Regions from separate parts of the Homo sapiens genome. Here all the other regions are linked to region 1. Evidence: fine-mapped expression QTL. A gene starts in region 1. Each other region holds a variant in brackets. All regions are shown on one strand. Distances are from middle to middle.

Region 1 (4,088 bases):
GACCATGACCTTGCTTCTTATTTCCCTATGTACTGAAAAGCAACTCCTCCTCTTCTTTTATGTGCATGGCTGAAATTGTCATTTCAGTTCAGCTCTGGTGAATCAACCACGTAGGGGCTCAGATAAAGACCAGAACTCCTAAATAGGAAAGTAATTGTGAGGCCCGGGTTAAATTCGGACTGCCCCACTGTGCTCTCTCTTTAGCCTTGCTCTCACAACTTAGCTGCCACTAGACTTGACCTTTTGCCTCAGCAGGTCTTCATATCCCTGTGAATAATTCAGAAGCGTCACAATGAAAGCCTGACAACCGGAGTCCATTTTGCAGTATGGCTGTCTGAAGCAAGATAGACAAAACGTATTTCCTTCCCCTTCATCTTGAGGGGAGGAAACTGATCAGGACAAAGGTTGCTGTCCAATATGATGAAGCCCTCTGTGTGATGTATCACTTGTAAATACCATGATAGCATGAAAGGCTCATTAGCTGAAGGGGCTTTCAATTAGGGTCCTCCAGTTTTTAAGGACCTTTGGCAAGGCTGCTCTGACAAAGAGAAATCTAAGATGCTCAAGGACCTGCTACTGTTTTTCTGTAACTCTTTCCTCTTCTCCCTCACACATTTTTCCTGTATCACTTATCACAGCTTCTAAAATGGATAAGGGAGCTATATTATGCAGTATCAATCTCTCGCTTGACCATAAGCTGCTCAAGGGCAGGGGACCTGACTTATTAATCTTTGTATCCCCTGCACCTGGCACACATCTCCATCAACGTACATGGAACTGAGGCGGTTGAATTTACATCCCAGGTCACTGTGCCAGAGCTCAGAATGGGACTAGAGCTGAAGGCAAGAGAGGAATCATTTATTTCCCACTGCTGAGCTGAGTGCTGGCTTCCAAGGAAATTCCAGTCACCGGACAGGCAGCATCCTCCAGCCCCAGGGAAGGACTTAAGGGTACTCTATTGGTACCTTTAGTGAAAGTTCTTTCTCCTAGTTCTTAGAGGTAAGGAAAATGAAGCAACCTGTCCTGTATCCTGTTGGTTTACAACCCAGGGCTAGGAGAATGTACATTGGAAAGTGAATCCTTTTCATCCTCTGCTTAGCTGATCATACCGAGACAGACAATTTGAGTAGGACTACAGAGCTTGGTCCTAATTAAATACAAGGACATACTTTTTTATCTTCCTCCCTATCAAAAGGTTCAAGTCTCAGACTTAACTTTTTAGTTTACAAACAGAAATAAAGACAGGAAATAGTCTTTTAAAAACGCTCCGTGTATCCAAGCCAGGCACTTTGCTGATGCATTATATATATTTGCTCTAAGCCTGCCAAGACCAGTAGTAATGTAGCCATTTACAGTTGAGGAAACTGAGGCCCAAAGAGCTTAAACGGAAAAGCAGAGATTAGAGGTCACTCCCCTTTGGGTCCGCTCACTATACCACGAAGTTTCTGTCCTTTTCCTCCAACACGCTGGTGAGTCCGTGTGCGTGGGTGACTGTGTGTGTGTGGTTCCTTTTTTCCCTATAGAGCCCTCCTTCTTGTCCGTTTTCTTGATTCCACTTTTTGGAGACAAAGTCCAGTTCTTCTCCAAGGTCTCACCATCCGCTCGCCGTCTCCCTCTGACGTCCCAAGGACGGTCAGCCACTCCCCCGCTAAGTTCGGAGTCTCAGCCCTTGGCTCCGATTCTGGGCTCCGCCCCCACCCTCCGGGGACCCCCGCCTGGTCCCTGTCCCCTGCGCCCAGGCGCTCCAGCGGGACCACGGCCCGCGCCCGGGCCCCGCCTCCCCTACCTGAGGCCCTCATGGCCGGAGGCGTCGCAGCCTCCGCCCACCAGCGCGCCTGCCCTGCCATTGGCTCTGCGGGCTGCCCGTCTCCTTGCTCCGTCCCGGAGGCAGGTTTTGCAAGGAGAAGCCGCAGTACCCGCGGCTCGGGTGCAGCGCGGGAGCACAGTGGAGCGCAGATCGCGGACCCGAGCGGGCATGTCCCCGCGCGCGGGAGCCTCCGTTTGCGGCCGGGCCCGGGCGGCTGTGAACTTAGCAGCGGGCTCCTGCGGCCCCGTCACTGCCATGTAGTCGCTGGCGGGGCTCCCTGCAGCCCGGGAGCGGCAGTGCCAGTGAGCCTGAGCCCAGGAGCCCGCGTCTTCCCCGGGAGGCGCTGAGTGCGCGCCGCGCCCCCGCCGCTCGGGAGGCACTTTGGGCCAGACAGGGAAATGGGGGAGAAAGTTTCGGAGGCGCCAGAGCCGGTGCCCCGCGGCTGCAGTGGCCACGGCAGCCGGACTCCAGCCTCTGCGCTGGTCGCCGCGTCCTCTCCGGGTGCTTCCTCGGCCGAGTCCTCCTCGGGCTCAGAAACTCTGTCGGAGGAAGGGGAGCCCGGCGGCTTCTCCAGAGAGCATCAGCCGCCGCCGCCGCCGCCGTTGGGAGGCACCCTGGGCGCCCGGGCGCCCGCCGCGTGGGCTCCGGCAAGCGTGCTGCTGGAGCGCGGAGTCCTTGCGCTGCCGCCGCCGCTTCCCGGAGGAGCTGTGCCGCCCGCGCCCCGGGGCAGCAGCGCGTCCCAGGAGGAGCAGGACGAGGAGGTGGGCCTTTCCCCAGCTTGCCCACTCTGGGTTCCGGCAGCCGGGCGACCGTAGTTTCCCATCCTGCGCACAGGCAGTGGGCAGGAGAGCGCTGTGGCCTGGAGATAGGGAGGGACCCCAAGCGCTCTGCCCCGAGCACGGGACAACGATAGTTAGGAGCCCCCCTGTGGGTTATTGACTTCCCTGTGGCTGTTACCCCCGTGTGTGTGTCTCAGTGTGCTGCCTGATGGTGTGTTTTTAAAATGTCAGAGAAGCAAACTCCTTCGTGTTTGTATCTGACTTGGTTGATCTGTGAAAGGATGCGATCTGGACATCTGGCGTGTCCCCACAACTCACCTCTGATTCTCCAAAGTGGGCGTTGTTTCCCACCGAAGCGCTTGGGCCGAGGGGCAGGGAGTTGAGGGGGAGAAATGGTGCCTTGGGGGTAAGAGGCAGGAGTAGGGTGGGGGGCAGCGGTAGCCGCGGAGTTGCCTGCGGAGGTTTCAGTGGCGCCAGCCCCCTGGGATCGCCCGCGGGTGGTTTTGGCGCGTCCCCGCAGCGTCGGTCCTCTGGGAGAAGAGGACTCCCCGCGCTCCCTCGGTGGCGCTGGCGTGCGCGCCTGCAGCTCCCGTTCAGACTTGTTTCCAGCTTGTCCAGATGAACGCTTGTCACCAAACCGAGTACAGATCGTCTTACCTTTTGCGGGGCGGAGCGGGGTGGGGGATCTGTATCTGCCCAGTTTCCTGGAAGGATGTTCCTCCAGAACTTGTGGGTCGCTTCCTGACACACTGAGCATAGGACTCTGGTGTCCTTCTGGCTGCTCTGTCCGGCTTATTTTCTGCTTTTGGAGGACAGTTAAAGAAGTGTACAATTCTTCACGTCTCAGAGCCAGACTCAGTTTAAAAAAAAAAAAGATTGTTTGCTTTGGACGTTTCTTGTGGGGAAGTCATCTTGATCAGGCAGGGCCACAAATAAAACATCACCTTAACATAGACTTATTGTGAAATTAATTCCTGAGTGCCAGTGTTGTATTTTCCTCATCTTGGATGGGGTTAGCTTTAGTAAATAATTGCCTTTGTCCCTTAGAGTAAGCAATCAGAGGCCCCCAGCCTGGAAGCAAAAACTGGATGTGGCACAAGGTTGAGAGGAGGCGAGTCCTAGCTTGGCAGAGATGGAACAAGCCTTAGCTGCTTAGCTGGTTCTTGGCCAAGCCACTTGCAGTAACCATGACCCATTCCCTAATTCCCCTAAGCCCCCATTGCAAGGATCCTGGATAAGGGTCTGGAGGCCTGCTTTCTAGAACTGCCTCTGCTACTGAGTGGTGAGACCTTGGGTATATCATTTCACTCCTCTGAGGTTCAGTTCCATAATCTGTAAAAGGAGGAGCTTCAAGGTAAATTTCATTTTCACTCTCATACTCCTGTTTCGAATCAGGAATTTCAGATGAATCCATAGCTCCAAATCGATCCTAGCGGCGGGATGTCAGGAGTTTGCTGAGTTCCTCACCCACCGCAGAGCTACATCCTAGCGGAGATGATCAA
Region 2 (4,088 bases), 570 kb after region 1:
AGCACAGCAAATAGCCCTTCATTGGCCTCTGCCCAGCCTATCACCATTAAAGAATTTGATTTCCAATACAATGGTTTTGCTTCCAGAGGTTTACTTTGTATTATCTCTTAGTTAAGTTGTGTCTGCATATTTAGGGGTAGGTACTCAGAAGCTTTCAAGCAAAGAGCATCCTCCTCATATACCTAACAAGTAAATGAATGTATTTTTAATGCATTTTATATTTTTCCTATTTTTCCAACTCTTCTTAAGTGTTTGGAATTGAGAGAGGCTCCATTGTCTACTATTAAATACTCTTCCTTTACATGTCATAAGAAGGTTTCTAATAGGAAAGTGGTGTTCTGCTCTTTAATAGGATCTGCTGTTGTATCCCTGTCCCTCACACGGAGTTATTGAGCTGAGCACAATGGTATTTTGGGGAGGCAGCAATAGTTCTGAAAGAAGACTGAACAATTTTTTCCTGTTTTTCTGTAGGAGGAGATCTCTTTTCAAAAAGCTAGCCAAGCAGCCTTCTCCTTTACTCCACACCAGCCGAAGTTTCTCCTGCTTGAACAGATCCCTGTCATCGGGTGAGAGCCTCCCAGGTTCCCCCACTCATAGCTTGTCTCCCCGGTCTCCAACACCAAGCTACCGCTCCACCCCTGACTTCCCATCTGGTGAGTGAGTCTCCTGGTCTAAACAGCAGAGGGGAGGGGAGGTAAAGTCATGTGAGGTCCCCAAAAAACATGAAGCTTGTTCCAGCTGAAAGAAAGCAGGTTGAAGGTGTAAATTATAAAGACAGATTTATAGAGAGGTCATAAGATGTGGCTATTCTGACCAAACAAATAAGTCAAGAAGTATGGGGCTAAACCTTGGCCTGGAGAGGTTTATCTGAAAAGTGTTTATTCCACTAGCTAAATGCTGAGACAATTTGCTGATCTTACCTGGCCTTACCTAATACAGTCTGGGCTACAACTGTGAAAAAAAGGGGAAAATGACCATGGATGCTCACAGCCTTCTGTTTTCCATCCACAGGTACTAATTCCTCCCAGAGCAGCTCCCCTAGTTCTAGTGCCCCCAATTCCCCAGCAGGGTCCGGGCACATCCGGCCCAGCACTCTCCACGGTCTTGCACCCAAACTCGGCGGGCAGCGGTACCGGTCCGGAAGGCGAAAGTCCGCCGGCAACATCCCACTGTCCCCGCTGGCCCGGACGCCCTCTCCAACCCCGCAACCCACCTCCCCGCAGCGGTCACCATCCCCTCTTCTGGGACACTCACTGGGCAATTCCAAGATCGCGCAAGCCTTTCCCAGCAAGATGCACTCCCCGCCCACCATCGTCAGACACATCGTGAGGCCCAAGAGTGCGGAGCCCCCCAGGTCCCCGCTGCTCAAGCGCGTGCAGTCCGAGGAGAAGCTGTCGCCCTCTTACGGCAGTGACAAGAAGCACCTGTGCTCCCGCAAGCACAGCCTGGAGGTGACCCAAGAGGAGGTGCAGCGGGAGCAGTCCCAGCGGGAGGCGCCGCTGCAGAGCCTGGATGAGAACGTGTGCGACGTGCCGCCGCTCAGCCGCGCCCGGCC[A/C]GTGGAGCAAGGCTGCCTGAAACGCCCAGTCTCCCGGAAGGTGGGCCGCCAGGAGTCTGTGGACGACCTGGACCGCGACAAGCTGAAGGCCAAGGTGGTGGTGAAGAAAGCAGACGGCTTCCCAGAGAAACAGGAATCCCACCAGAAATCCCATGGACCCGGGAGTGATTTGGAAAACTTTGCTCTGTTTAAGCTGGAAGAGAGAGAGAAGAAAGTCTATCCGAAGGCTGTGGAAAGGTCAAGTACTTTTGAAAACAAAGCGTCTATGCAGGAGGCGCCACCGCTGGGCAGCCTGCTGAAGGATGCTCTTCACAAGCAGGCCAGCGTGCGCGCCAGCGAGGGTGCGATGTCGGATGGCCGGGTGCCTGCGGAGCACCGCCAGGGTGGCGGGGACTTCAGACGGGCCCCCGCTCCTGGCACCCTCCAGGATGGTCTCTGCCACTCCCTCGACAGGGGCATCTCTGGGAAGGGGGAAGGCACGGAGAAGTCCTCCCAGGCCAAGGAGCTTCTCCGATGTGAAAAGTTAGACAGCAAGCTGGCCAACATCGATTACCTCCGAAAGAAAATGTCACTTGAGGACAAAGAGGACAACCTCTGCCCTGTGCTGAAGCCCAAGATGACAGCTGGCTCCCACGAATGCCTGCCAGGGAACCCAGTCCGACCCACGGGTGGGCAGCAGGAGCCCCCGCCGGCTTCTGAGAGCCGAGCTTTTGTCAGCAGCACCCATGCAGCTCAGATGAGTGCCGTCTCTTTTGTTCCCCTCAAGGCCTTAACAGGCCGGGTGGACAGTGGAACGGAGAAGCCTGGCTTGGTTGCTCCTGAGTCCCCTGTTAGGAAGAGCCCCTCCGAGTATAAGCTGGAAGGTAGGTCTGTCTCATGCCTGAAGCCGATCGAGGGCACTCTGGACATTGCTCTCCTGTCCGGACCTCAGGCCTCCAAGACAGAACTGCCTTCCCCAGAGTCTGCACAGAGCCCCAGCCCAAGTGGTGACGTGAGGGCCTCTGTGCCACCAGTTCTCCCCAGCAGCAGTGGGAAAAAGAACGATACCACCAGTGCAAGAGAGCTTTCTCCTTCCAGCTTAAAGATGAATAAATCCTACCTGCTGGAGCCTTGGTTCCTGCCCCCCAGCCGAGGTCTCCAGAATTCACCAGCAGTTTCCCTGCCTGACCCAGAGTTCAAGAGGGACAGGAAAGGTCCCCATCCTACTGCCAGGAGCCCTGGAACAGTCATGGAAAGCAATCCCCAACAGAGAGAGGGCAGCTCCCCTAAACACCAAGACCACACCACTGACCCCAAGCTTCTGACCTGCCTGGGGCAGAACCTCCACAGCCCTGACCTGGCCAGGCCACGCTGCCCGCTCCCACCTGAAGCTTCCCCCTCAAGGGAGAAGCCAGGCCTGAGGGAATCGTCTGAAAGAGGCCCTCCCACAGCCAGAAGCGAGCGCTCTGCTGCGAGGGCTGACACATGCAGAGAGCCCTCCATGGAACTGTGCTTTCCAGAAACTGCGAAAACCAGTGACAACTCCAAAAATCTCCTCTCTGTGGGAAGGACCCACCCAGATTTCTATACACAGACCCAGGCCATGGAGAAAGCATGGGCGCCGGGTGGGAAAACGAACCACAAAGATGGCCCAGGTGAGGCGAGGCCCCCGCCCAGAGACAACTCCTCTCTGCACTCAGCTGGAATTCCCTGTGAGAAGGAGCTGGGCAAGGTGAGGCGTGGCGTGGAACCCAAGCCCGAAGCGCTTCTTGCCAGGCGGTCTCTGCAGCCACCTGGAATTGAGAGTGAGAAGAGTGAAAAGCTCTCCAGTTTCCCATCTTTGCAGAAAGATGGTGCCAAGGAACCTGAAAGGAAGGAGCAGCCTCTACAAAGGCATCCCAGCAGCATCCCTCCGCCCCCTCTGACGGCCAAAGACCTGTCCAGCCCGGCTGCCAGGCAGCATTGCAGTTCCCCAAGCCACGCTTCTGGCAGAGAGCCGGGGGCCAAGCCCAGCACTGCAGAGCCCAGCTCGAGCCCCCAGGACCCTCCCAAGCCTGTTGCTGCGCACAGTGAAAGCAGCAGCCACAAGCCCCGGCCTGGCCCTGACCCGGGCCCTCCAAAGACTAAGCACCCCGACCGGTCCCTCTCCTCTCAGAAACCAAGTGTCGGGGCCACAAAGGGCAAAGAGCCTGCCACTCAGTCCCTCGGTGGCTCTAGCAGAGAGGGGAAGGGCCACAGTAAGAGTGGGCCGGATGTGTTTCCTGCTACCCCAGGCTCCCAGAACAAAGCCAGCGATGGGATTGGCCAGGGAGAAGGTGGGCCCTCTGTCCCACTGCACACTGACAGGGCTCCTCTAGACGCCAAGCCACAACCCACCAGTGGTGGGCGGCCCCTGGAGGTGCTGGAGAAGCCTGTGCATTTGCCAAGGCCGGGACACCCAGGGCCTAGTGAGCCAGCGGACCAGAAACTGTCCGCTGTTGGTGAAAAGCAAACCCTGTCTCCAAAGCACCCCAAACCATCCACTGTGAAAGATTGCCCCACCCTGTGCAAACAG
Region 3 (4,088 bases), 440 kb after region 1:
GAAATGTCATCAAACTGCTAGCATGTTTCTTTTAGTTAAGTATATTGAGGGACCTTACCATTCTGTGTATTTCATCTCTAAGAAAAAGGAAATTAGGCTGGAGAGGTTTGAAAGAAATTGAGCAGGAAATTGGGGTTGCAAAATTCTATGGCAAGGTGATGGTGTGTTTTGATTGTTGGGTTTTGTTTGTTTATTTTTTGATAAGAACAAAAAGTGTTTGCTACTTAGAAAACCTTTATTGGCAGCATGATTTCTGTGTCCATGAAGAATGAAAGTGAGGTGGATGGAATAGTAGGAGTTTTAGAAGGAAAGTACATTTCCTCATGTGAAAAAGGTAGGAGAAAGGAAAATATAAATTCATTGCTGTTGACTTTATAATTTGATATTAACAACATTATTGAAATTGCTGTGGACTTGAAGTTTGTCCTGTTTACGAGTTTGCACAAAGTTAATCCTAATTATTCTGAAACTAAGACTTATATATTATTTTTATACATTTGAATTTCTCTAAATTATATACTTAAATTTTGTTTAATGAAATTTTTTCAATTAAATAAAAATGTATGTTTAAGGTTGAAATTTACTAGTATTTCACATGATTCCTTGTTAAGTGTTATATATATTTAGGAGCATCTAGGAAATTGTAAAACCAAATTTCAAATTAAATGTGTATTTTTATTATCTAAATATTTTGTATACATATGGGTCATTCACATCCTTATAGGTTTTTATTTAACAAATCATTTCTCAGGGCAATACAACATAAAGGCTCTATAGTTAATTTAGTAATAGCATGGTGTGATACCTGTATTCCGTATCTCTTTTGTTTTATAGTGTTACAAGCAATATTTGATGGTTTAGGGTTGTTTTCTTTTTAAACTTTGGCTTGAACCAGGTTAGCACTGAATGAGAGCTCTGAGATGACCATCTGATGTTTATTAGATAGCTGTGGTAAAATGACATAATCATCATTTTGGTTTTGAAGAGGTAACCATAGCACTGGTGGCAAAAATAGATCATCTGAGTGACATTTTAACTCAGAAAATAAATACCTTTTCATTTCTGTACATCACCATTCCAGAGCAGGCCTGGGGCAAATTGGTCAGAGTCCTAAGGGGTGATATTTAAAATAAGATCTGTTTTGTATTAGTAATGAGGTTGTGGTTTTAAGCCCTTCCATTCTGTTGTGTAGTTTCAAGGGAGTTTAGTTTAAAACATTAAAACCATACAAACATTGTATATTTGGAACACCTAACCTCTTCTAAGTGTTCTGTACCTCAGCACTTTTTTTATCTTGGGTGTTTGTGTCACTCTCTTACAACGTCTACTTTTATAAAGCCTTGGGTATCTCAAACGCTATGTTTTTATTTAGTATTTTAGTGCAATAGAACATTGTGCTAAAGAGGCCAAGGTCATGGGTGTTGATTCTATGCCAATTAACTGTTATGGTGAAATTTTTTTCCTGTAGCTTTGGCTGGTATTTCAGAAGTTGCTAGAATTTGACTACTTTTGTTTAAAGTGTGGATAATGCTGCCTAACTCATTAACTGTCCTGTAAAAAGTAAAATTGATGTCTATTGGGGATAACACTTCCACATAGGATATTTTTTTCCTATGTGAAAAAAGCATTTACTTTCATCTGTGGATGATCTCTGACTAGACTAAAATGTATGCGTTTATTAAATAGATTAATATCAGTTCCTGGTGGGTGGAGATT[A/G]TCAGTCTTTAAATTGCTACTCTTTGCTGCTTTCCTCTGCATAGATACAGAGAATCTGTCAGCTCCCTGGCTAGTCCAGCAGAAAGCCCTGGGCATTTCCCAGAGTTGATGGCAGAGGAGGGTCGTCTCTTGTCGCCTTTTTAGCCTGATTTATTGCCCTTGAATTTTTTAATAAGGACATATTTTAAGTTCTGTCTAGGGACTGAGGGCTTGGATCATTCATGCAGTGAACTTTGAATAAGTTGGAAAGATTGGCTGGGCCCTGTTATCATAATGGATGGTGACTATTTGACATTTACAGTGGTATGCTCCATTTGCACTAAAATAAATGAATTTGTATTTAGACATGATTTGCAAAATTTTTCCCTATCACACTTAAAGTAGAGGTTATTTGCATTCAAAGTTAAACACTGAAAAACTGCGTACAGACTTAGTGAAGATTTGTAAAATACATGTTAATTGGCATAACACCATTAAACCTGATTGTGCTGATCTGTTAGCTGGAGAAAGAGCAGGAATCATCTTGTTCCCATATCCCTACAATCTAAATTGTTAGAGTTTCTAAAGATGGGGGACTTCTCTGAAGTGAATATTCCTGTCAGGCCTGTTGACCTTACTGCCTAGTGACCTATTCATAGGTCAGGATGGCAGTTCTCCCTGCTGGGTCAGTTTTTATTCCACCTTCTTTCGTGAGAGAACTAATTTGTACAGCTCTTACAGGTGGAGAACTAGATCACTGGTGTCCTTTACTGCCTCTGATATATGTGGAAATGAATCAGTGGAAAATTCAGTTACTCATCGTGACCTACTTCTGTCACTTGCGTTGAAGGGGTGCTTATTTGTCAAAAGCAATCTGCCCCCCTTCCAAAAACTCTTGCTCCATGGCTGCTTTAACTCATTTAATCTATAGATTCTTTCAGAATGTTTGCAGTTGCCTAAATCTTTCTGTGAATTATCCTGCTGTACCTGTAATCCATTTTAGATTAAGCCTCTGGAGGCCAATGAAAAAATCTGACTTTGTTACCTCTCAGCACAGCCTGACCCACAATCTCTGCTTTCTAATGAAGATTCCAGGATCTTTAGGAGAAACTGTAAAATGGAAACTTCCACTAATTTGAGAAGGGGGAGATTTAAGAAAGGTTGGGTTTTATTATGACTAAACTTCCCCACCCACGTTTTTTGCAAAATTTATCTTTTCTCATTTTTATTGGCTTATTCTTTCAAAATATTCATTTATTCAGCAAGGTTTAATTAAGCATGCCTCTGTGCCAGGTATTGCATTAGGGTCACAGAAAGAACAAGATACATGCTTGTCTGCAGTGCCTAGTAGGAGAGCTATAAGGTATCATGTTAGAATAAATAAGACCGGTTTTAAACGCCATTTTTATTTTGGGGGAGGGCAGAATTATTTTACATCAAGAACAAAATAAGGGTTACTTCTTACCTGACTTGATGATTTTTCAGCAGCATAGTCTGGTCTGTCTGGATCAGTGGTTTACCTATTTCATATGGTCACATGTGTCAGTATGTACAATGATTATTTACCATAGACTTTTAGGTAAATGATGAGAGGATTATTGAGAACAACAGAATTCAAAACCCTTGAAAAAGAAAATGATGTGTATCTATATTTTAAGCAGAAATACACAAACACACTTATAGTAACTACAAATAACATCTAGTAGCTCAGACCTATTGCCATTTATTTCATGTTCAATATTGTACAGACAACAAACTATGAAAAGTGATGTACCATATTTATATGTATACAGGTGAATTTCAATCCAACACTAAGATAATTACTTTATGTTGTAGAATCATATATAAATACTTTTTGCCCTGTTCTAACCATGCTTACGAAGACTTTCAGATTAAGAATGAATGGTCATACTTAAAATAAATAGAAACTAGTATTTGATGAGGAGAATGGCATTCCTTTGGAAACCCATCTCATTCTTGGCAGTTAATTAGTTCTTACTGTGAACATCTAACCCTTAAAAAAAAAAAAGAAAGAAAAACACTCTTGCTGACTTGATAACACTTTTTAAAAAGTGGCAGCTATTAACATTAAAATAACAGTGAAATTTTTCTCTCAGCTGAGAGTTGTAAGGATTACTTTTTTGGGTTTTCATTTCTCTGTGTGTGTGTGTGTGTGTGTGTGTGTGTGGCTTTTTTTTTTTCAGATTGTTACAGATACTTCTCCTTTTTGAAGAAACTATACAGGCAAAAAAAAAAGCAGTCAAGCTGAGCTAGTTTGGCATAGTATATTGCAACATAGGCATAGGCAGGATTTATATTCTAAAAAATATTCTGTGTTTTTTGGCCAAGGAACAGAAACTCCTGGTCAAAGTCATAAATGAAGCAGCAGATTC
Region 4 (4,088 bases), 570 kb after region 1:
GATTTTCTTTGTAAATATATAGCATCGTGTTTGGTTTGGGATGTAGAGTCTATACCTGGCTGCTGATTGCGTCGTTTACTACAGCTTTTTTTAAATAAGATTTTTGCTTTACCATTTATCATAATGTAGTAATGAAGCAAAATGGTCAAAACTGGGTGTGTGTGAACAGAGATACACCCATATTCGTGTATATACACATCCACCTACATGTTTTGGTCTGTGGTTTAAGAGACTATTTCAAGGTTCCATTTTTATAAGCTAAAACATTCTAAGTTAAGATGGAAGAAAGCCCTAAACACAGTAGATTCTGAGTTTTTATGTGTATTTTAACCAGAGTTTCTGATAGTACTGTATCTGGCTACCTATATTTCCAGATCTAAAGCAAGAACTACTCTAAGTACTGCATTTGGAATCCTCCTCCATTAGGAATGGCCAGGACAAGTGGAGCTAGCCATTTTCATTACACGGCCATCCCAATGGACACTGGATCCCTGGTCCAACTGTCTAAAAGGCCAGTTGTTCCTTTCTGTGGATGTGGATGTCTGGCCTTCACCTGAGGTAGAGCGGGGACTATAAACACACATCAACTTTCTTTCTGTTTGCTTTCTTTTCCTTCTTTTCAAACTCTTAAACTCAGGCCTTTATGCTGTGAGTGACTAGTCCAAGAAGCACACATTTTGTAGTAGTCCTGCACCAGCCCTGCTCTTGAATAAAAAGGAAAATTACTGGCTGCACCCAAATCTTCTAGTACTTGAGTAATAAGCATCAGGCATTGGAAGAGGTTTTAAATTTGCTTTTTTGAGGAAAAGAACTGGGGGTGGATTTTGGCATCGTAGCATATCGATTAAAGAATAATCAGGACATCAGATACATTTTAATACATAGCTGGGGCCTTATGTTGTAGATGAAGCTTGCTGTTTTTAGCAAGTTCCTGGGTTTCACATTCATTTCTGCTGCATCTAGTAGCTCCACACATTTCATAACCTGATCTCTTTATTTGTATGCAAAAAATACTGTCTTAATACAGAGCAGCATTTTTGTAACAAAGAGACTCGCTGGAGCTATTTGGTGCTTGAATGTGACCATCCTTTTTACTTTTGCTAAGCCTTATTTAAATTTTGTATACCGTGGAATATGTAGAATTTGTCAAATCATTTTAGTGCTGAAGGTTTTTGATTTCTTGTTTTTGTTTCTGTTGTTGCAGTTTCTTTGGTGGCTTGTTTTGTATTGTAAGATGGCACTTGCTGATATAAATACTAAGGCACTAAGAGAAAATACAGATAAGTATTTATAAGTTGCTTGGGAACCATAGCAGAATTTTTTGTTTGGTTTTGTAAGAGAAAAAAAATTACCAATAAATAACTGATCTAGCACCCAAACTCTCTTGGGGGATGTCTTAGTATCTTCACGCTATAAAATTGTTCATCTAAGCACAGCATCATCTTATGGCCTTATGGATTGTAAATCTTCTAGTGAGGCTATAAACTCCACTCTGAAAACAAAGGCATAACTTAACCGACTGCTCAGTTGTCCTTCGTTGTAAAATGAATTGGCTTTGGGAAAAAGGAAAAAAACAAACAAAAAAAGAAAAAGAAAAAAGCCTCCTCCTTGCCCCTAATTTTTTTTTCCCATATGGTTTTAGCCATTCCCCATCACTATATTGTGAAGCTGTAAAAATATATATATATACTTTACAAGAGTTTACTAATGGATTTCAAAACTGGTCTCAACGTTTATAATACATATCTGTGTTTGGCAGTTGTCATAACCCAATCCTACATTCAGCCATCGGGACAAGTCTGTCGGGGAGGTAGTTCATGGTTTACAAGCCTTTGCTTTTTAACTGTCCAATTTCCTTTAAAGCACAACTAGCTATTTGTTTACAAATGATATTTTTATGTATATTTTGTATAGTGTATCATCATTTTTGCCAAATATGTTTTTCATTATAAATGAGTAAAGAGTACTTAAGGTTGCATTCATGTATTACATGTTTGTTGTTGTAAACCTCTCCAATCAGCTGGTAGAAATTCTCCTCATTGTGTTCTATTTGGTCAGTCTCTGTGTGATTGTAGGATGTGCTCCTTGGTAGTACTCCCAGCTGTAGATTTACCAGCTTAAAAGTTTGTTAGGATCTGTGCAATAAAGTGTTTGCAGTCTTATTTTCTCTAAGAAATTCCTTATGGACGTCATAATTGTTGTATATTGAACAAAATATTTATACTTATGCAGTTGCATAACATTGAAATAAAAATTTAGCATGAAAAGATAATGACTC[G/A]TAAGTTTTTTTCTAATATACTCATATGCATTCCACCTCCAAAAAATATTACTGATTATTACTCTGGTATTATGGAAAGGATAGGTTTTTACAGATTACTTTTTGCTGAGTGGAACAGTTTGCCTTTTTTTCTTAAAAATGTACACAAATATTCTTCAACATTAAGTCCTTTAGCTGGGCATAGTGGTGCTCACCTGTAGTCCTAGCTATTTGGGAGTCTTAAGGCAGGAAGATGGCTTCAGCTAGGAATTGGAGACCAACCTGGGCAACATAGACCCTATCTCTACAAAAACTTGAAAAGTTAGCTGGGTGTGGTGGTGTACGCCTATTGTCCCAACTACTCAGGAGGCTGAGGTAGGAGAATTACTTAAACCCATAAGTTCAAGGCTGCAGTGAACAAGCTATAATTGTGCCATTGCATTCCAGCCTGGGCAACAGAGTGAGACCCTATCTCCAAAAAAAAGAAAAAAAAAAAAGATTAAGTCCTCTTTTAACTTCTTCCTATTTTTTTCTACCAACCTTTTTCCTTGCCTGCAGAACTTACCAACTTCTACACTCACACTCACCATCTTCCCACACTCAGGGGGTCTTGATTCTCCTTTCTCTGTGACACCACCACCACCTCCTCTCATTCTCTCACGAACTTGCTCCATCAATTACCATAGTCTGCCTCAGCATTCTCTTTTTCCTCCCCAACTGTCTCTTTCCTTTCAGAAAACCCTTTCTTTACCTGGCCTTTTCCCTCTGTCCCTTCTCAGGTGACATCCTACAAGAGGAGTCTGCACTTAGTATTTTTGGGTCTTCACCCCTTTGAAACCTGGCTCTGTCACCCATGCCATCAACATCGCTCTGGTAGAGGTCACCAGTGACACAGCTGACTCTAAAGCCCTCTTGTCAAGACATCACTTCAGTAGACCATCTTGAGAACCGGTCTGTCCCTGACAGCCCTCTCTCCTAGTTGTCTTCAACCTGTTCTTTTTCTCTCTTTAGAGAATTTCTTCCTTGTCCTCTTGTCCCTTTAAATACTGGTGTTTCCTGGGTTCGTCCTTGGTCCCTGAGCATTTCAACTTGGCTCAGGCACCTCACACTCAAAATGTCCAAAAATATGCTTATTTTGGTGCCCCTTCTTTCAAAGCTCACTGTATTCCCCATCTTTTCTCCGAGTCAGATCCTAGATTTCTGCCTAAACTCTTCTTTCTTGCCTTACATCTTAAAAAAAAAAAAAAAAAAAAAAAAGCTTCACTGATTTCACAATATACTCTTCTGTGCAATCCATGTCCCGTCACTATTGTGCTACTGGCAGCCTTAGTTTGGTCTCTATCATAGTCTCTCTCCAGATGACCTCAACAGCCTCCTAACTGGTTTTCTTGCCTTCGCTCTTACCCCTTCTAGTCTGTTCTTCACAATGTCCCTAGAGTGATGTTGCTCAAGTGTAAGCACACCATGTTACTACCCTGCTTTAAACCTTTAAGTAGCACCCATATTCTTCGGGTAAAGGCCAGTTCCTTAAATGTATCCTTACCCTAGATAACTCCAGCTCAGCATGTGTGCTGGACTCAGACATCTGGAGGAAGCCTTTTGGAAAGGCCTGGACCGACCTGTGGACTGTCTTTGCTTCACTGTGTATCTGCCTCATGGCACTCACTGCGTTATTTTGGAGTTACCTTTCTACATGTGTATCTTCTTTGCTAGACTTCAAGCTCCCTGGTTCTCTGTCTTGTTTTTTACTTCTAGGACAAAGCACATCGGAGACATCAATAAGTATTTGCTGATATGGTTAGGCTTTGTGTCTCCACCCAAATTTCCTCTT
Region 5 (4,088 bases), 26 kb after region 1:
TCTAGCACTTTCACAACAAAGCAATTATATTGTATTGCATGTAAATATTTGTGAGTGGGGAAAATATATAGAAGTCTACAATACTACTTCCCCTCCACATTAAAACCATATGAAGTTATGCCTACAAATTAAAATATTGTAAAAGCTCAATACAGTTTTAAATTTTTCAACAAAGTTATGTAGTACTTCTTTATTTGTAATAATAAAAAGTATCATTGTGTGAAATTAGTATGGGCACATTATCTCTAATACTTGCCGTTAATAATGGCATTGAACCCTAACTGATAGCCTTTAAAAAAAACAACAAAGCATGGCCTTTAGTAAAACAAAACAATATGTGACATTTCTGTAGAAATGCTGTAATAGAGAAAAATTTAGCTCTGTGAGCAGTAGTCTCATTTATGGGAATGGTAATTATCTGTAAGTTGAGACTTAACATTTTTGTAGATTTTATGAGAAAATATTTGCTAGTCCTTGTTTTTACATCTTTTTTTCGTCCTGCCTCTGTGTCTATCTCTCTTTTCTCCACCTCATATGGGGACAATTCTGTTTTTACAGGTCCTGATTTTTTTTTTTTAAATGTCTCACCAGAAGTGATAACTCATTTTGTTAGAATGGTAGGGAGCTCAAAAGTGGAGGATTGTGACTTCAGTTGTGGCTTAATCAGCCCAAGCAGGTGCATTCTAAGTAAAAGAGATACGGTTTTAATGCAACTGTCCCCCCTAATTCAGAGAAAGGGAGACAAGTATAGGAAATGACACAGCAGTTAAGTCAGAATTGTTTCTAAATAGATTGTTTTTTTTTTCCCTGAATTCTCTGAGCACCAGCAGCAGTGTCTTGTTAAAGTGAAGAGAGATATAAATGAAGAGGAGTTGAGGATGACTGTGTTAATTTTTTGTTCTGAGGGATCAGAAATACTTAAGAAAAATGAAGTCGGAGATTTACATAAATAGGTGGGAGCCTCAGTAGTGTCATGTTCATTTGAGAGTAGAATTTGATTCTGGGGACCTCAAATAACAGAAGATGATTATATTCAAAATGTCCAAGGCACTACTGTAAGGCAACTTAAATGGCATGTGCCTTAACAGGGTGGCTTTGTAGTGAGGTTCTGGAATTTTTCTCATTCTTTTGTCTCGCAGTGTGCTATTGTATGAGTAGCAGTGAGAAAATGTTTGGATAGCATGTCTAAGAACCAGAGCATGCAGAGAAAACAGGGCTTTTATTCTACTTTGCATCTTAGTTAATTTGGTTTTTAGAGAAGCACACTATTTTGACTTGAAAGGCATTAGCCATATCTTCTTATTTACTTGAGTGGTGGTTACAAGAGTATTCTATATTTATTTATTACACTTTGCTCTTATGTTTTAGGTATTTTTTGCATATTTCACAATAAAAATGGTTAAAAAAAGTCACTAGTGTATTCTAGACCTTTCAAGTCAACCATACCAATTTATTCATTCCTCCGTCTACCCAACAAATACTAATTGAGCACCTACTGTGCATCGGGTACTGTTACTGGCACTGGGAATACAGTAATGAACAAAGCAAGCAAAAGTCCCTGGTCTCATGGGGTTTATATTGCATGGAGGGGAGGCAGATAATATGTCAGGCAATGGGTTAGAGCAGGAGTTGACAGTCGTCTTCTATAGAGGGCCAAATAGTAAATACTTCAGGCTTTGTGGGCCAGATGGTTTTTGTCGCAACTACTCAACTCTGCCACTGTAGTGTGAGAGCAGCCATAGCCAATACGTCCATGAAAGGATATAGCTGTGTTCCAACAACACTGCTATTTACAGAATCATGCAGCGGGCCAGATTTGACCCACAGTCCTCCTTAGTTTGCAGACCTCTGTGTTACATGGTAGTGTACCCTAAGGAGAAAAAAAAAATGGAATATGGAGTGCTGGGGTGTGGGGTGAGGGATATTTATAGATTTTGACAGCATGGTCGAGGAAGATGTTTCCGTGAAAGTGACTTGTGTAAAGATTTGAACAAGATGATGTGTTTGGCCATGTGTCTATCTGGAGAGAAGGGGAAACAGCAAGTGCAAAGGCCCTGAGATGGAACATATCTGGAGAATTCGAAGAATGGTAAGAAGGCCAGAGTGGAGCAGAACAAGTGTGGGAGAGAGTTGTAGGAGATGAGATCAAAGGCTAGGAATGAAGTGTAAGGCCATGTCATGTGACCTTGTATGTCCTTGTAAGG[C/CT]TTTTTTTTTTTTTTTCTAACTTGGAAATCAGTTGCATAGTCACTGGAAGGTTTTAAGTAGAAGGGTGACAAGATCTAATTTTTAACAGGCTCACTGGCTTCTGTATGGATAATAGATTAAAGAGGCTTGGAGTGAAAACAGAGAATCAGTTAAGGGTTACTGCAGTAATCAGGTTAGAGGTGATGGTGCTTGGAGCAGGTTGACAATAGAGGTGGTAAGAAGCAAACAGGCTCAGGATGTGTATTGAACATAAACTTGACAGGGTTTGCTCACAGAGTGAAAATGGAAGATGATAACTGGAAAAATCAAAGAGGACTTCCAAGTTTTTGGCCAGGTGAACTCAAAGGGTAGAGTGCCATTTATGGAGTGGGGAAGATGTCAGACAACCAGCCTAATAACAACCTTGCGGCACAGAATCCCAGACCCAATAAAGCACCAGACAGAGATGTCAAGCTAACCAAGGTTATGCCATCTTCTGGGTTTGTGTGTGCCCTAATGGCCATAGGTGCCCTGTTCCTAAGGCTGCAGCTTGTGCTGTCCGTGGTGGGGTTTGCTCATAGCCTTCAGTCTGTTGCTAAGTTATGGACTTTGTGCTACTATGGGTCCCTGAGAGTCCTGAATTCCTATGGGACAGGTGAAGATGACCCAGATCCTTTGGGTGAATCCCTTTTGATCCATAAAGTTATCAAAAGAAACCCTGATATCCAGTGGGTCACCAGGGAAGCCCTCAAACACAGAGAGATGTGTGGGCTGACATCTGTAGCTACAAGGATTATGGCCTTATAAGAACCATGGTTCAAAAAACTAATACCAAGCCCTCTTAAATGCTTTTCAAAAAGTAGAAGAGGAAACATTCCCAGACTCATTTTATGAGGCCAGTGTCACCCTGATTCCAAAGCCAGACAAAGACACCACAAGAAAAGAAAACTACAGGCTATAATCCCTGATAAACATAGATGCAAAAATCCTCAATAAAGTACTAGCAAATATCATTCAGTAGCACATTTTAAGGATCATACATCATGACCAAGTGGGATTTATCCCTGGGATGCAAGGATGGTTCAATGTACATACAATATGATATGCCACATTCACAGCATAGAAGATAAAAACATCATTTCATCAGATGCAGAAAAAATATTTGACAAAAATTAACATTATTTTATGATTAAAAACTCTGAACCAAATAGGCATAAGAGGAACTTAGTAAAAGCCATATATGAAGGACCCACAACTAACGCTATAATCAATGGGCTAAAACTTAGTTTTTCCTCTAAGATTTGGAGCAAGGCAAGGATGCCATATGTCATCACTTCTCTTCGACATTGTACTGGAAGTCCTAGGCAGAGAAAACAGACAGGAAAAAGAAAAGGCATTCAAATTGGAAGGGAAGAGGCAAAATTATCTGTTTGCAGGTGTCATGATCATATATACATGGAAAATCCTAAAGACTTCACAAAAACTGTTAGAACTGATCAGTGAATTCAGTAAAGTAAGATACAAAAATCAACATACAAAAACAGTGGCATATCTGTACATCAACAATAAACTCTCTAAAAGGAAAATTAAGAGAATCTCATTTACATTAGCAAGAAAAGATAAAATACTTAGGAATTAAGGAGGTGAGAGACTTGTACATTTAATTATAAAATATTGATGAAGGAAATTTAAAACAAATGGAAAGATCTCATGTTCACAGATTGGAAGAATTAATATTGTTAAAATGTTTTTTTTTTTTTTTTTTTTTTTGAGATGGAGTCTTGCTTTGTCACCCAGGCTGGAGTGCAAGTGGCATGATCTCGGCTCACTGCAAGCTCTGCCTCCCGGTTTCATGCCATTCTCTTGCCTCAGCCTCCCCAGCAGCTGGGACTACAGGTGCATGC
Region 6 (4,088 bases), 610 kb after region 1:
GTTAACCCTGCCACCTAGTGACCACTTTCTGAATGTCACTTGAAGATTACCACCTGAAAATTCGTGTTGACCTCAGTCTTGCCGCCCTTCCAGACTTTCTCCTGCTTGGAGGCCCCATGTGGCACGGTGCTGCTGATGTGTCATAACTGTTTTGGGGCTGCGTTAGCGATCCCTGGAGGATATGGACTGAGCTGTATCTCCCTTTGTTTTCCCACAACAGTAAGGTGCTTGGAGATTAAGGAGCACGTCTCAGGAGCATCCTATGTGCCGAGGAGATGGCTTCTGTCTCCCCAAGGGTTAGAGTTCCCAATTTCTCTTGTGTGACTCAATTGTAGCACCTGAATCTTCTGTTTGTTAATATGTGTCCCTCCTCCATTGAACTGCGAAATCTGTGAGGTCAGGGACAATGTCTTTCTTATGTTTGAGCCCCATCCCCTAGTTTGGTATCTGTCTGACAACTGTCAGGGGAATGAATGGCCGGATGGCATGGCTATAAACTCCCAGTCTGCCCGGCATTCTTGCCATAGTTCTCCAGATGGGGCATCTTCCCTTTTCCACTCTCAGGATGAACTGTGTCATCTTTACGTTTCTTCACCCCTTAGCCTCCCCCTTCTTCCATACATGTTCAGCACATGCTTAGTATATGACCTTGCCTTGAATTTTGGAAATAGAAAGCTGAAGTTAGGAATTCCTTAATTTACACCCACCAAACCTTCAAACCTACCTCTCCATGTGCCAGCACATGCACCTGGATGCCCTGCCACACCTTCCAAGTGTGCTCTGAATCCCCGGAACCACTCATTGGGATCACCTGGGGAGATTTGACAATGATTGATGCCTGGGTTCCAAAGCAAAAAGTCTGATGTCTCACGTCTGTAATCCCAGCACTTTGGGAGGCCGAGGCAGGCGGATCACGAGGTCAGGAGATCGAGACCATCCTGGCTAACACGGTGAAACTCCGTCTCTACCACAAATACAAAAAAAAGAATTAGCTGGGTGTGGTGGCGGGCACCTGTAGTCCCAGCTACTCGGGAGGCTGAGGCAGGAGAATGGCGTGAACCTGGGAGGCGGAGCTTGCAGTGAGCCGAGATCATACCACTGAACTCCAGCCTGGGCGACAGAGCAAGACTCTGTCTCCAAGAAAAAAAAAAAAGTCTGATGTTATTTGTCTTGGGTTTAGGCTGGGTGTGGGGATTTTTAAAAAATGTCCCCAGGGGATCCTAAACTACAGCCAGGATTGAGACCTGCTCTCTGAATCCTCTGTTTCTGCCTTCTCAGGCTTCAGCAGGTAGCCCCACTCTCACCTGCATTTCCAACCATTTCTGTTTTTGGGTCATTTTCCAAATCATATGGAATTGCCCTAAACTCTGCCATATGAAAATAAGAATTAAAAAAAGCTTTCCTGGATCCAATATTCATAGCAACTATCTGCTTTCTTTATGCACTTTCCAAGCCAAACTTCAAGAATAAGTCACCCACACAGGCTGTTTCTGCTTCCTCCTCATCGTTTTCATAAAATGTACTCCAGATTGGATTCTGTTCCAGGGATGATCACCCTGTCATTCAAAACGACTCACCTCCCTTGGCCTCCAAGACCCCATGTTCTCCTAGTTTCTTTCTCAGGCTACCTTTCCACCTGATCTCCCAATGTTGAGAGTTCCTCAGGACACGTGCTTGGCTGTCTTTCTTTCTTACTTCACTTCCCACAGCTTTTCAGTCCCTGGGACTTTGGAACTTCAAGCCTGTGCTCAGACCATTCTGTCAGTCTCATACCTGCATATCCAAATCCCTATTCGGCCTTCCTTTCCAGAGGCGTGTGCTAGACATCTCAGATTTCATGTTCCAAATGGAACTTTAAAAAGTTAATTAATTAATT[A/AATTT]ATTTATTTTTTGAGACGGAGTCTCGCTTTGTCGCCCAGGCTGGAGTGCAGTGGCGCGATCTCGGCTCACTGCAAGCTCCGCCTCCCGGGTTCACGCCATTCTTCTGCCTCAGCCTCCCGAGTAGCTGGGACTACAGGCACCCGCTACCACGCCTGGCTAATTTTTTTTGTACTTTTAGTAGAGACGGGGTTTCACCATGTTGGCCAGGATGGTCTCTATCCCTGACCTTGTGATCCACCCGCCTTGGCTTCCCAAAGTGCTGGGTTTACAGGCGTGAGCCACCACGTCCGGCCTAAAAAATTTATTTTAATTTATTATTATTTTTTTGAGACAGAGTCTCACTCTGTCACCCAGGCTGGAGTGTGGTGGCACGATCTTGGCTTACTGCAACCTCCACCTCCTGGGTTCAAGCGATTCTCCTGCCTTAGCCTCATGAGTAGCAGGGATTACAGGTGCACACCACCACACCCAGCTAATTTTTGTATTTTTAGGTAGAGATGAGGTTTTGCCATGTTGGCCAGGCAGGTCTTGAACTCCTCACCTCAGGTAATCCACCTGCCTCGGCCTCCCAAAGTGCTGGGATTACAGGCGTGAGCCACCATGCCTGTCCCCAGATGGAATCTTGATACACCACCCCCCCACACTTAGACTCGTCTTGTATAATAGTTCCTATTGTATTAATTTCCTATGGCTTCTGTAATAAATTACTAAAAATGAGCTGACTTAACCCAGCACACATTTATTTTCTCATAGTCCTGGAGGCCAGAAATCTAAAATCAATTCCTCTGGGTTGAAATCAAGGTGTTGGCAGGGCTGTACTCCCTCTGGAGCCTTAGGGGTGAATGTGTTCCTTGTCTCTTACTGCTCCTGTTAGCTGCTGGCATTCTTTGCTGTATTAGTCAGGATTCTCCCAAGAAACAGAACCAATAGGATCAAACTGTCTCTCTAGAGAAGACCAATGCTCCAGCTCATGCAGTCACGTAAGAGAAATTCCCTCTTACTTGGCCTTTTTCTTCAACTCCAATCTTCAATTGATTGAATGAGGCCAGCCCACTTTGGCGAGGATAATATACTTTACTCAGTCTGTTCATTTAAATGTTAATCTCAACCAGAAACACCTTCACAGTCACATTAAAAATAATGTTTGGTCAAATGTCTGGGCACTCCATGGCCCAGTCAAGTTGACACATAAAATTAATTGTCACACTTGGCTTGTGGTAGCATCACTCCAATCTTGGAGGCCAGCATCTTCAATTCTCTTTCTGCCCTGTCTTTACATAGCCTTCTCCTCTGTGTGTGTGTGTGTGTTTTAATCTCCTTCTGCCTCTTTTTTATAAGGATACAAGCGACTGCATTTAGGTTCCACCTAGATAATCCAAGATCATCTCCCCATCTCAAGATCCTCAATTACATCTACAAAGACTATTTTTTTTTCCAAATAAGAGAATATTTACAGGTCCCAGGGATTAAGACATGAATTTCCTCGGAGGACCATTATTCAGCCTATTACATCAATTCATACAACAGCAATTTTATCCGCCCAATGTCTTAAGCCAGAAATTTGGAACTCACATTTGTCATAAAATTCTCCTCAACACCATTTAATCCAGCCATAACTCCTGTATTTTCTTTTAAAAAGTCTTTTTTTTTTCAAGATCACTAGGTTCTTATAAATAAATCTTAATTCTCCTCAGTAATTTCCCTCTCCTCTGCCACCAACCTAACCCAAAACATAATATCTTTCCCATTCTTTTTTTTCTTTTCTTTTCTTTTTTTTTTTTTTTGAGACAGAGTCTTGCTCTGTCACCCAGGCTGGACTGCGGTGGCCCGATCTTGGCTCACTGCAACCTCCACCTTCTGGGTTCAAGCGATTCTCTGCCTCACCCTCCCGAGTAGCTGGGATTACAGGTGCCCGCCACCACACCCGGCTAATTATTGTATTTTTAGTAGAGACAGAGTTTCACCATCTTGGCCAGGCTGGTCTTGAACTCCTGACCTCGTGATCCACCTGCCTCGGCCTCCCAAAGTGCTGGGATTACAGGCTTGAGCCACTGCACCTGGCCCCCATTCTTATTTTAATCGTTCATTTATGTCCATTGTAATTTTCTCTTTATTTGTGATGATGTTAAGTGTCTGTCTCTAGTCACTAGATTATTGGCATTGTGAAGGCAGGACCATACATGTTTTGTTCATCATTATATTTTAGGTCTC

Which allele goes with the higher level. Alleles are on the strand shown, and positions count from the first base shown. SD is a standard deviation of normalised expression in the study named. Not every link is listed here.
In carriers of allele C in region 5, the expression in monocytes after interferon gamma of the gene that starts at base 1,943 in region 1 tends to be lower than with CT alone (moderate effect, 0.50 SD a copy in Fairfax 2014).

Evidence for each region.
Region 2: its variant is fine-mapped to the expression of MAST4 in monocytes (Quach 2016, PIP 0.95).
Region 3: its variant is fine-mapped to the expression of MAST4 in whole blood (INTERVAL, PIP above 0.99).
Region 4: its variant is fine-mapped to the expression of MAST4 in monocytes after LPS (Quach 2016, PIP 0.95).
Region 5: its variant is fine-mapped to the expression of MAST4 in monocytes after interferon gamma (Fairfax 2014, PIP 0.95).
Region 6: its variant is fine-mapped to the expression of MAST4 in pancreas (GTEx, PIP 0.98).

What each region holds. Positions count from the first base shown.
Region 1 is chr5:66,594,451-66,598,538 of GRCh38, forward strand. It overlaps MAST4 (microtubule associated serine/threonine kinase family member 4), which reads left to right and starts at 1,943. Exons shown (of 29, transcript NM_001164664.2): 1 at 1,943-2,568. The coding sequence starts at 2,206. RefSeq lists silencers at 1,579-1,778, 2,389-2,528, 2,539-2,688.
Region 2 is chr5:67,162,136-67,166,223 of GRCh38, forward strand. MAST4 (microtubule associated serine/threonine kinase family member 4) reads left to right here. Exons shown (of 29, transcript NM_001164664.2): 28 at 472-653; 29 at 1,012-4,088. Among named protein-coding and RNA genes, the nearest start is that of CD180, 33 kb to the right of the region's middle. The variant A/C (reference allele first, on the strand shown) is at 1,556.
Region 3 is chr5:67,029,463-67,033,550 of GRCh38, forward strand. All of the region lies in intron 4 of MAST4 (microtubule associated serine/threonine kinase family member 4), which reads left to right. Among named protein-coding and RNA genes, the nearest start is that of MAST4-AS1, 27 kb to the left of the region's middle. The variant A/G (reference allele first, on the strand shown) is at 1,717.
Region 4 is chr5:67,167,327-67,171,414 of GRCh38, forward strand. MAST4 (microtubule associated serine/threonine kinase family member 4) reads left to right here. Exons shown (of 29, transcript NM_001164664.2): 29 at 1-2,267. Among named protein-coding and RNA genes, the nearest start is that of CD180, 27 kb to the right of the region's middle. The variant G/A (reference allele first, on the strand shown) is at 2,279.
Region 5 is chr5:66,620,216-66,624,303 of GRCh38, forward strand. The region is part of intron 1 of MAST4 (microtubule associated serine/threonine kinase family member 4); the gene reads left to right. Among named protein-coding and RNA genes, the nearest start is that of MAST4, 26 kb to the left of the region's middle. RefSeq lists an enhancer at 4,083-4,088. The variant C/CT (reference allele first, on the strand shown) is at 2,205.
Region 6 is chr5:67,209,358-67,213,445 of GRCh38, forward strand. No RefSeq gene overlaps it. Among named protein-coding and RNA genes, the nearest start is that of CD180, 15 kb to the left of the region's middle. The variant A/AATTT (reference allele first, on the strand shown) is at 1,877.